2 separate regions of the Homo sapiens genome follow, and region 1 is linked to region 2. The links come from fine-mapping of genetic effects on gene expression. Tissue or cell type: whole blood. Region 2 holds a variant in brackets; the other region holds the start of a gene. All regions are shown on one strand. Distances are from middle to middle.

Region 1 (5,194 bases), 30 kb before region 2:
TATGTTTTAATACCTTTTCACAGATTTAAATCCCCAGGGTGAATACTCCCTTCTTTGTTAGTACCTGGCGTGTGTTCAGTAGTCAAAGTAATTAAAATTAGCACCTATATAATGAGCTTGTCATTTTTAATGTTCTTTACCAACCAGAATCCTAATGAAGTCTAAAAGGTTTAGGCTGGGCACGTTGGCTCACGCCTGTAATCCCAGCACTTTGGGAGGCCGAGGCGGGCGGATCAAGAGGTCAGGAGATCAAGACCATCCTGGCTGACACGATGAAACCCCGTCTCTAATAAAAACACAAAAAATTAGCTGGGCGTGGTGGCAGGCGCCTGTAGTCCCAGCTACTCGGGAGGCTGAGGCAGGAGAATGGCATGAACCCGGGAGGCGGAGCTTGCAGTGAGCCGAGATAGCGCCACTGCACTCCAGCCTGGGCGACAGAGTGAGACTCCGTCTCAAAAAAAAAAAAAAGGTTTAAAGTGGGTACATTAATTGATGTACCACTGTAGGAGCACCTCTAGATACTGAAGGCCACAGTATCTTGGCTCACTGCAACTTCCGCCTTCCCGGTTCAAGCGATTCTTCTGCCTCAGCCTCCGGAGTAGCTGGAATTAAAAGTGCTCGCCACCACGCCCAGCTGATTTTTGTATTTTTAGTAGAGACAGGTTTTCTCCATGTTGCCCAGGCTCGTCTCGAACTCCTGACCTCAAGTGACCCGCCCGCCTTGGCCTCCCAAAGTCTTGGGATTACAGGTGTTAGCCGCCGCCCCCGTCCTGGTTTTTGTTTTGTTTTTTACATAAAACGCAAGATTCTCTAAAAATGTCCAAATTTTGGCTATGTATATGAACATCATACATACGTATTAGATTCAAGCTAATACTCACTCTTCTACTCTGCTAACATGGCCAGAAGACATAAAAAAAATTTTTTTTTGAGACGTAGTTTCACTCGTCGCCCAGGCCGGAGCACAATGGCGCGATCTCGGATCATTGCAACCTCTGCCTCCCGGGTTCAAGCGATTCTCTTGCCTCAGCCTCCCGAGTAGCTGGGATAACAGGCGTGCGCCACCACGCTCGGCTAATTTTGTATTTTTAGTAGAGACTGGGTTTCACCATGTTGGTCAGGCCAGTCTCGAACTCCTGACCTCAAGTAATCCACCCACCTCGCCTCCTAAAGTGCTGGGATTACCGGCGTGAGCCATGACCCCGGCCCAGAAGACATAAATATTTGCCGGGTAATGACACCTTCGGGAATGAACAATGGTTCTTCGTTTATTATGTCACCGACCCTAACAATGACCACACAATGTACTAAGTCAACATGGCTAAGGGTGCACTATGGGTTATTTGTTGTGAATCTCTAAGACTCCATGTGATAACCAAAATACTTTATTTTGTTTTGAGATGGAGTTTCGCTCTTGTTGCCCAGGCTGCAGTGCAATGGCGCGATCTGGGCTCACTGCAACCTCCGCCTCCCGGGTTCAAGTGATTGTCCCGTCTCAGCCTCCCTAGTAGCTGGGATTACAGGTACATGCCACCACGCCCGGCTAATTTTTGTATTTTTAGTAGAGACGGGGGTTTCATCATATTGGTCAGGCTGGTCTCAAACTCCTGACCCTCAGGTGATCCACCCACCTCGGCCTCCCAAAGTGCTGGGATTACAGGCGTGAGCCACCATGCCCGACCCAAAATACTTTTTTTAAAGGTATCACAGCTCCAGGAAATAGAGCAGTAAATTGATCTGTCCTTCAGATCACCAGGACTTTCATAGGCTAAATATCTTCACAACAGACCTCCAAAACCTTCAAGGTCAGAACTGAACACACGGTGGCGAGAGGAACTGTCTTCACAGCAGCTCTGCTTCCTCGGAGACGGCCAGAGGGAAAGGCCGTTGGCCAGTGCCAGTACTTCGCCCAAGGGAGTACCTGCTCACATTAACCCAGCCCAAGAAGTTCCTTTGGCCAAGACGCACACACACACACCACTGTCCGGTTTTCTATTTCCTTCCAGTGTAACGACAACCACAAGCTATCAGCACTTCACTATTTGCTGTCCCCTCAGCGGGATCGGGATGCAGCTACGCAGCGGGCCCCTGGCGAGCCGCGGTGTCAGGGCCCTTTTCTCCTCTTCCCACCGTGGGAAGCGAATTCAGTGGCGTCAAGGGCCAAGAGCCAGACCTGAGTTTGTCTCTCACCCCCCGATGCTCGTCTCCCTTTTCTCACTGCCTTCCGCCCCCTCTGATCTCGACTTCTCGCAACCTATCCAGGTCCTCTCTGGGCCTCTGCCCTGAGTCAGCCCCGAATCAGACGGGCTTGACTCGCTGAAAGAATTCCCCTTTGAGAGGAGGCAGATTCCCCTCTACATAGACGACACCCTGACGTCGAGGGGCTTGCCCCTCGTCCGTGGGGAAGCCTTCCCGGCCCGCGGCTGGGGCCTGAGGTTGGGCCGATCACCCCTCCTACCAGTCCTAGTTCGGGTCTAGCGGAATGGCTGGGCTCCGAGAAGGGCGCCGGGCCCACGGGCGGGACGGCCAGGGCGGCCCCGCACCCTCTGGGCGCAAATTTCTCCAGCGGGGTCCCCAGCGCGGCCAGCCCCAGTCTCGCGAGAGGACGTGGGTCCCGCCCGGCGCCCGACCCCGCCCGGCCCCACCTTCCCCTCGTCCCCCGCCCTCCTTCTTCCACTCCCCGCGGCGCGAGCGGCTGACTGCCCGTAGAGGAAACGACATTCGGAGCTGCGCTCCCGCCCACGCCGGCCCTGACGCGGGCCTCGTCAGCCAGTAACAGGGAGCAGAGGTGGGAGTTAGCGAGGCGACCACGAAAACGGTGAAGGTCGGAACCGACAGCCTCCTCCGAGAAGGGTGAGGAAAGGGTCTGAGCCTCCCCGTTCCCTGGACTCCGCAGAGCCGCTGCGGGGTCGATCCCTCCCAGGGGCGGGGTCGCGCTGGGCAACTGCAGTCCTGGGGCCGACTGGGCGGGGTGCGCCCAGAAGCGGGGAGAAGGGGTCAGTTGGGGGCAGAGGGCACCCGGGCGGCGGGCGGCGGGGAACAGGCTGCGGGGCCCAGGCCAGGGGTGGGGTCCTGGGGCCGGGACTCCTGCAGCGGGCGGGGAAGCCCCCGGCAGGCCGGTCCCTTCCGCCTCTCCTTTGGACCCTGACTGGAGGCCGGCGGGCGGGCGGGCGGGCGGGAGAGAGGGAGGGAGCGCGGCGCGAGGGGGGCGGGTCCCGGCGGCGCTGGGCGCTGATTGGCTGAGCGTGTGTGGAATCGGGTGATGGGAAACGCAGCCCGGCTCTCCCGTACCCTCCCGCTCCGCTCCCTGCCCCCCGTGGCGAATGTGCTGCGCAGCGGCGGGTGCTTACGCTCGCGGGGTTTGGCTGTTGCAGGCAGGAGCTGGGAGGAGGCGGCAGCGGCGGCGGCAGAAACAGCAGCGGCGGCGGCGGCGGCAGCTGGGAGGAGGTGGTGACGGTGGCAACGGCAGCGTCGGGGACGATGGCGCGACTCGTGGCAGTGTGCAGGGACGGGGAGGAGGAGTTCCCCTTCGAGAGGAGGCAGATTCCCCTCTACATAGACGACACCCTGACGGTGAGCGGGCCGGGCCGGGCTGGGCCCGCCGCTCCCCTGGCAGCTGTTTCCCCTCCTCCCCCTCCCCCAGGCCGAGCGCTGCGCACTGGAGAAAGAGTGTGTTGCAACTCCTAGGCGAGGCCTTCTCTTCAGCAGGCCCCACAAACTCGCCTTTGCAGTGGGTGGCTCGGTAACCTCTGTCGGCCCCAAGCCCAGAGCTCCGTACGCACTCCCTCTCTCCAGATTTTCCTTCTTTTGGAACCTTATTCCTTGACCCTTTCCCTTTAGGAGACGCTGCTTTTGTCAAAGCACACATCTCAGAGAGGGGTTGAAGGATCTTGGGCGTTTAGGGCCTACCCCATACAGAAACCACCTACCCTCGGGGAGGCTTAATTACCTGGTAATGTCGCAGCTGCACTGCTACCTGTGTATTTTCTGTTTTAATACTGGTAGCTCTCACCACATAAGCTTAATTACTGGGGGCAGAGTGACATGCTCGTGCACAGTCAAGATTCCACTAAAATGGTTTGATTTCGTTGTAAATAGTCTCGTATTGCCTAATGCATTAAAACTCTTGAAATGATTGTATTGCTAGGCCCTTTCTTCAAAACGGGCTTTCTTCGCATTATTTAGTTTACAGGTGGACTTTTTTTTTTTTAAAGGAAGCCAAATTATTGAATGTGTAAGAGTACTATAAAAAGCTGATTGCTCATCTTGAGTGTCAAGACCCAGTTCCGGGTACTTTATTCTTTAGATTTGGTAGTGTAGCATTATCGACCCTCTGCCCTATGTTGCTGTACTGTTTCCTTTAAAAGGAAATGGCTGAAATTTGAATTGAATCTGAACAGGAAATGAGTGCAGTTGCTTGCCACTTAAGAAATGAAATTAACCTTTTCCGAATATCTTTTGAAATCTGCGTTTTGATGATGCTGAAGCTTTGGATTATACATTTGCTTATTTCGATAAGGTGCACCTAAGTCTCTTCATCTCATCAGTATTCTTTTGCTATCAAAGGCAGTTGATCAGTTTTGTTCCTCAATATTTTTTTTTGCAAATATCTACCGAAGTTTTTTCAAATTTTATGTAAAATGCAAGTCATTGTAGAGATGCCAGTCTATGCCTTTATGCTTGCCAGTCTCAATTAAGACTTGATTGAGCTGCAGTACTTTAAAAAGGATTAGAAGAGCTATTGAATGACTTAATTTATTAGAAGTTTTTAAGTGACAGCATTTCTAATTATTCAAGTGCATTTATTTTTCATGAAAAAAGGTAGAATGATTTGTTCTGACATAAAGTAAATAGTGTTGATGCATTAGAAATTGTGTGTCTTGATTATGATTTCTGTACTTTTTGCATTAGAAGTATAATGGACTTGTATTTTTAAATAGTTGAAACTAGCACTGTGATCATATTAAATAATGCATTTCTCAGTTTGGACTTCAGATAGGGATTCATTTGTTGATATTTTCTTTCTTCTCTCCCCTGCTAACATAAACACTTTTCTGAAGCATATAGTTATGATATCAGCCTTTAAGGTTTATTGTCCCACAATGGCTGTGGAGTTAAAAAAAAAAATTCAGTGAGTTTGGATATAAGATTATTATTTAATGAATAATCATAACATAGGAAAACATATCAAAAC
Region 2 (5,194 bases):
TTTAACTTGCTATTTACTTATGCTTATAGTTGTACAATCAAACATATATTAAACTACTATGAGAGTATAAAGCAGTAAAATAGGGGGAAAATATTTCAAGTTTTATTATTGTTCTCTTTGATATTTGACCATTTAATTACCTGAAAATGTGAACTTGCTGTTTATAACCTGAAAATGTGGAAGTATTTGTTGTTATTTCTGTGTCCGTTTTTTCTCTCCTAAAGGAGAGACTTTCTGTTCCTGCGCGCGTATGTGTATATTTTAAAAGAACACAAAATAAGGCTAAGCACAGTGTCTCACAGTTCAGCATTTTGGGAGACTGAGGTGGGCGGATTGTTTGAGCCCAGGAGTTCAAGACTAGCCTGGGCAACATGGCCAAACCCTGTCTCTCCAAAGAATACAAATATTAGCCATGCGTGGTGGCACACACCTGTAGTCCCAGGTACTCAGGTGGATGAGGCGGGGAGGGTCACCTGAGCCTACTAGGGAGGTTGAGGCTACAGTGAGACAAGAGTATGCCACTGCACTCCAGCCTGGGCAACAGAGTGAGACCCTGTCTCAAAAAACCGTGAAACATAAATTTACCTTTCAAACAGTTTTTAAGTGTACATTATAATTTTGTTAACTATATGCACATTGTTGTACAACAGATCTCTAGAACTTTTTCATCTCAACTGAAACTATACGCATTGAACAACACCTTTTTTCTCCCCTCACCCCCTAGCAACCACAATTCTTCTTTCTGTTTCTGAGTTTAATTATTTTAGATAGCTCATATAAATGGGATAATGTAGCACTTGAATTTTTGTGATTGGCTTATTTTACTTAGCCATTATCTAAGACAATACTTAGATAATGTCTAAGATTCATCTATGTTGTAGCATATGACAGGATTCCCCTCTAAAAGCTGAATAATGTCACAATACTGTGACATTATTTAAAAATGGGCAGTGTCATAGTATATGTGATATTATTCACTTTTCTTTTTTCTTTTTTTTTGAGACAGTCTCGCTCTGTTGCCCAGGCAGGGGTGCAGTGGCTTGATCTCGGTTCACTGCAACCTCCGCCTCCCGAGTTCAAGTGATTCTCCTGCCTCAGCCTCCTGAGTAGCTGGGATTACAGGCACACACCACCACACCTGGCTAATTTTTGTGTTTTTAGTAGAGACAGGGTTTCACCTTGTTGGTCAGGCTGGTCTTGAACTCCAGACCTCAAGTGATCCATTCGCCTCGGTCTCCCAAAGTGCTGGGATTACCGCACCTGGCTATTCACATTTCTTTGTCCATTCATACATTGATGGACATTGAAGGTTGCTCTCACATTTCGCCTGTTGTCAATAAATGCTGCAGTGAACATGAGTGTGCAAATATCTCTTCAAGATCCTTGCTATCAGTTCTTTTGGATATATACCTAGAAGTGGGATTCCTGGATCGTATGGTAGTTTTATTTTGAAGAACTTCCGTACCGGTTTCCATAGCAGCTGTACCGTTTTATATTCCTGCCAGCAGTGCATAAGGGTTCCAATTTCTTCACATCCTCAGTAACACTTGTTATTTGTTGTTGTTGTTGTTTTGATAGTGGTCATTCTAGTTGGTTTAAGGTGATATCTCATTGTGTTTTTGATGTGCATTTTCCTGATGATTAGTGATGTTGAGCATCTTTTCATATGTTTGCTGGCCATTTGTATATAATCTTTGGAGAAATGTCGATTCATGCTTTGCCCATTTATTTATTTACTTTTAAGTTATTTTATTTTTTTGACAGGATCTTCTTTGTTGCCCAGGCTGGAGTGCAGTGGCATGATCACGGCTTTGCCCATTTTTAAATTAAGCTATTTTTTTTGTGATTGAGTTCTAGTGGTTCTTTATATTCTGGCTATTAACCCCTTATTCAATATATGGTTTGCAAATATTTTTTCCCATTCTTTGGGTTGCCTTTTTACTCTGTTGATCATCTTTGCTGTGCCAACGTTTTTAAGTTTAATGCATAGTCATGTGCTATGTGATGACATTTTGGTCAGTGATAGACCACATATATGACAGTGGGCCCGTAAGATTATAATGGAGCATACTGCGTTGCAGATCAAGTAGAGGAAATGATTAATATTCAGTGATGGTGCTGGGACATTTGGTTTTCCATGTGAAAAAAATATAAATAAAAATATGTATACTACCTAGGTTTGTGTAAGTACACTCTGATGTTCGCACAGCAACAAAATAGCTAACAATGCATTTCTCAGAATGTGTCCCATTGTTAAGTGACACGACTGTAGTCTTTTTTTTTTTTTTCAGGCTTAATTCACTTTATTTTTCTTGTATAAAAACCCTGTGTTGTAGCCACAGCTGGAGCCTGGGTCCTCTGCATGGAGACTCTGGTGTGGGTCTTGACGAGATGGTCAGTGAATTCCTGACAGGAAGACTTGATGAATACAGTCTCCTTCCAGAGGTCGGGGGTCAGGTAGCTGTAGGTCTTAGAGATGGCATCAAAGGTGTCCTTGGTATAGTTACCCAGGGCGGCAGTGTAGCCCCTGGCTAAGGTGTAGCAGTCATCAATACCAGCCATCATAAGCAGCTTCTTGGGTACAGGCACTGAGACGATGCCAGTGCCTCTGGGCGTAGGGATGAGGCGCACCAGCACAGAGCCGTGGTGGCCTGTCGGCTTGCAAGGGATGGTGTGGGGCTTGCTGATCTTGTTCCCCCAGTAGCCTCTGTGCACAGGGACAATAGAGAGCTTGGCCAGGATGATGGCCCCGTGGATGGCAGTGGCCACCTCCTTGGAGCACTTAACACCCAGACCGATGTGGCCATTGTAGTCCACGATGGCAACAAACATCTTGAACCTGGTGCGCTGGCCGGCACGGGTCTGCTTCTGCACTGGCATAATCTTCAAAACCTCGTCCTTGAGAGAGGCCCCCAGGAAAAAGTTAGTGATCTCAGATTCCTTCATGGGCAGG[G/T]AGAAGACATACATCTCCTCCAGGGACTTGATCTTCATGTGCTTGACCAGGCGGCCCAGCTTGGTGATAGGCATCCACTCTTTATCCTCGGCCTTGCCTCCATGAGCTCTGCGGCCTCAGCCGCGGCCTCAGCCCCAGCCCCGGCCCCGGATGCCACTGCCGAAACCTCCACGGAAGCCACTGCATTTCCCCATCCCAGGCGATCCCCACCACCGGCTGCCACCAGCATCATCTGCCATTTGGTGTTTTCTCAGAGAAGCATCTATTTTTGTTTTTGTTGTGCATGTGTGCTTTTGGTGTCATAGCCAGGAAATCATCACTTAGTCCAGTGTCATGAAGAGTTTCCCCTATGTTTTCTTCTAGTTTTATGGTTTTCAGATGTTAACATTTAGTTTTTAATCCATTTTGTGTTAATTTTTGTATATTTTTGCCCATATTTAAAACTTTAGTGAAATAACATAATTTAACATTATTTGTCAGCATTGTTGCCTCTGTTTACCAAGTGGGCTTAGAGCCTCTAATGTAACATATATATATATATATATATATATATATATATATATTTTTTTTTTTTTTTGAGATGGAGTTTCGCTCTTCTTATGCAGGCTGGAGTGCAGTGGTGCGATCTTGGCTCACTGCAACCTCTGCCTCCCGGGTTCAAGCAATTCTCCTGCCTCAGCCTCCTGAGTAGCTGGGATTACAGGTGTATGCCACCACATCTGGCTAATATTTGTATTTTTAGTAGAGACGGGGTTTCACCATGTTGGCCAGGCTGATCTCGAACTCCTGAGCTCAGATGATCCACCCGCCTTTGCCTCCCAAAGGGCTGGGATTACAGACGTGAGCCACCGCGCCCAGCCCATATCTTCATTTTAAGAAACATTGTTATCTACTATTGGTCCAGCAAAACGTGTGTGCATGAAACAAAGATATGGCAGTAGAAGGGTAAATACTATAGTAAGAAGTCTAGGCCGGGCGTGGTGGCTGATGCTTGTAATCCCAACACTTTGGGAGGCTGAGGTGGAGGGATCACTTTGAGGTCAGAAGTTCAAGACCAGCCTGGCCAACATGGTGAAACCCCATCTGCACTAAAAACACAAAAATCAGCCCAGTGTGGTGGTGGGCGCATGCAATCCCTCCTACTCAGGAGTCTGAGGTACGAGAATTGCTTGAACCTGGGGGGCGGTGGTTGCAGTGAGCCATGATTGTCCCGCTGCACTCTAGCTTAGTTTAGGCGGACAGATCCTCTGAGTTCAAGAGTTCAAGACCAGCCTGGCCAACTTGGCGAAACCCTGTCTCTACTAAAAAATACAAAAAATTTGCTGGGTGTAGTGGTGGGCGCCTGTAATCCCAGCGACTCGGGAGACTGAGGCAGGAGAATCGCTTGAACCCAGGAGGCAGAGGTTACAGTGAGCCTCGATGGCGCCACTGCACTCCAGCCTGGGCAACAGAGAGAGACTCTGTCTCAAAAAAAAAAAAAAAAAAAAAAAAAAAAAAAATATATATATATGTGTGTGTGTGTGTGTGTGTGTGTGTGTGTGTGTATATGTATATATGTATATGTATATATATGTATATATATGTGTATATATATATATATAGCATAGGCAACTTAAACCATGCCAGAGGGAATTGAAAATAGGGACCTACAGGAGAAACAAGAAAGAATGAATACTAGTTGGCTCTACTCAATAGGAAGACCCAGGGAGAAGTTGGAATTAACTCAGATTTCCAGCCTGGGTGACTCTGAATGGCTGTGAATGGCAGTGTTCTTATTAACAGGGATTGAGAAGGCACATAGGAATAGAACAGCATTACCCTTGGACAGTGAATTTAAGGTGTTGCCTATTGGACATCTGCCATGTCTTGTCACTTTTCGATATGGGTCTGGCCCTCAGGCAATAGCAGAGATTTGAATGGAGCTGTAGAGTCACAAGTCATCTTTATAGACATGTTAGTTGAAGCCATACGCATAGATGAGCTCATCTGGGAGATGAATTTAAATCAAAGAGATCAAAATTTCCTTGTTTCACTTAACTAATCTTCTTAGCCATTTACTCTTATTGTGAGCCTGGCTTTTCCACCTGACCAAGTTCTTCTTGTTCCAGGAATTCAAAGATAAAGAAACCAGGCTCTATTATTTCTTTCTGATTGATTGATATTTGGTTTCTAAAAGAAATTTTCTTCCTTCTCTACATTCACAAACTCTTCTATTCTTTTGCCACATTTTATACACTTAAG

Evidence for each region. PIP is the estimated chance that this variant, and not a neighbour inherited with it, causes the effect.
Region 1: it holds the start of GGNBP2, and the variant in region 2 is fine-mapped to the expression of GGNBP2 in whole blood (TOPMed, PIP above 0.99).

What each region holds. Positions count from the first base shown.
Region 1 is chr17:36,542,245-36,547,438 of GRCh38, forward strand. GGNBP2 (gametogenetin binding protein 2) reads left to right here and starts at 2,675. Exons shown (of 14, transcript NM_024835.5): 1 at 2,675-2,853; 2 at 3,375-3,573. The coding sequence starts at 3,481. It also overlaps a transcript of MYO19 not described here.
Region 2 is chr17:36,572,134-36,577,327 of GRCh38, forward strand. All of the region lies in intron 6 of GGNBP2 (gametogenetin binding protein 2), which reads left to right. It also overlaps the pseudogene RPS2P50. Among named protein-coding and RNA genes, the nearest start is that of DHRS11, 17 kb to the right of the region's middle. The variant G/T (reference allele first, on the strand shown) is at 2,954.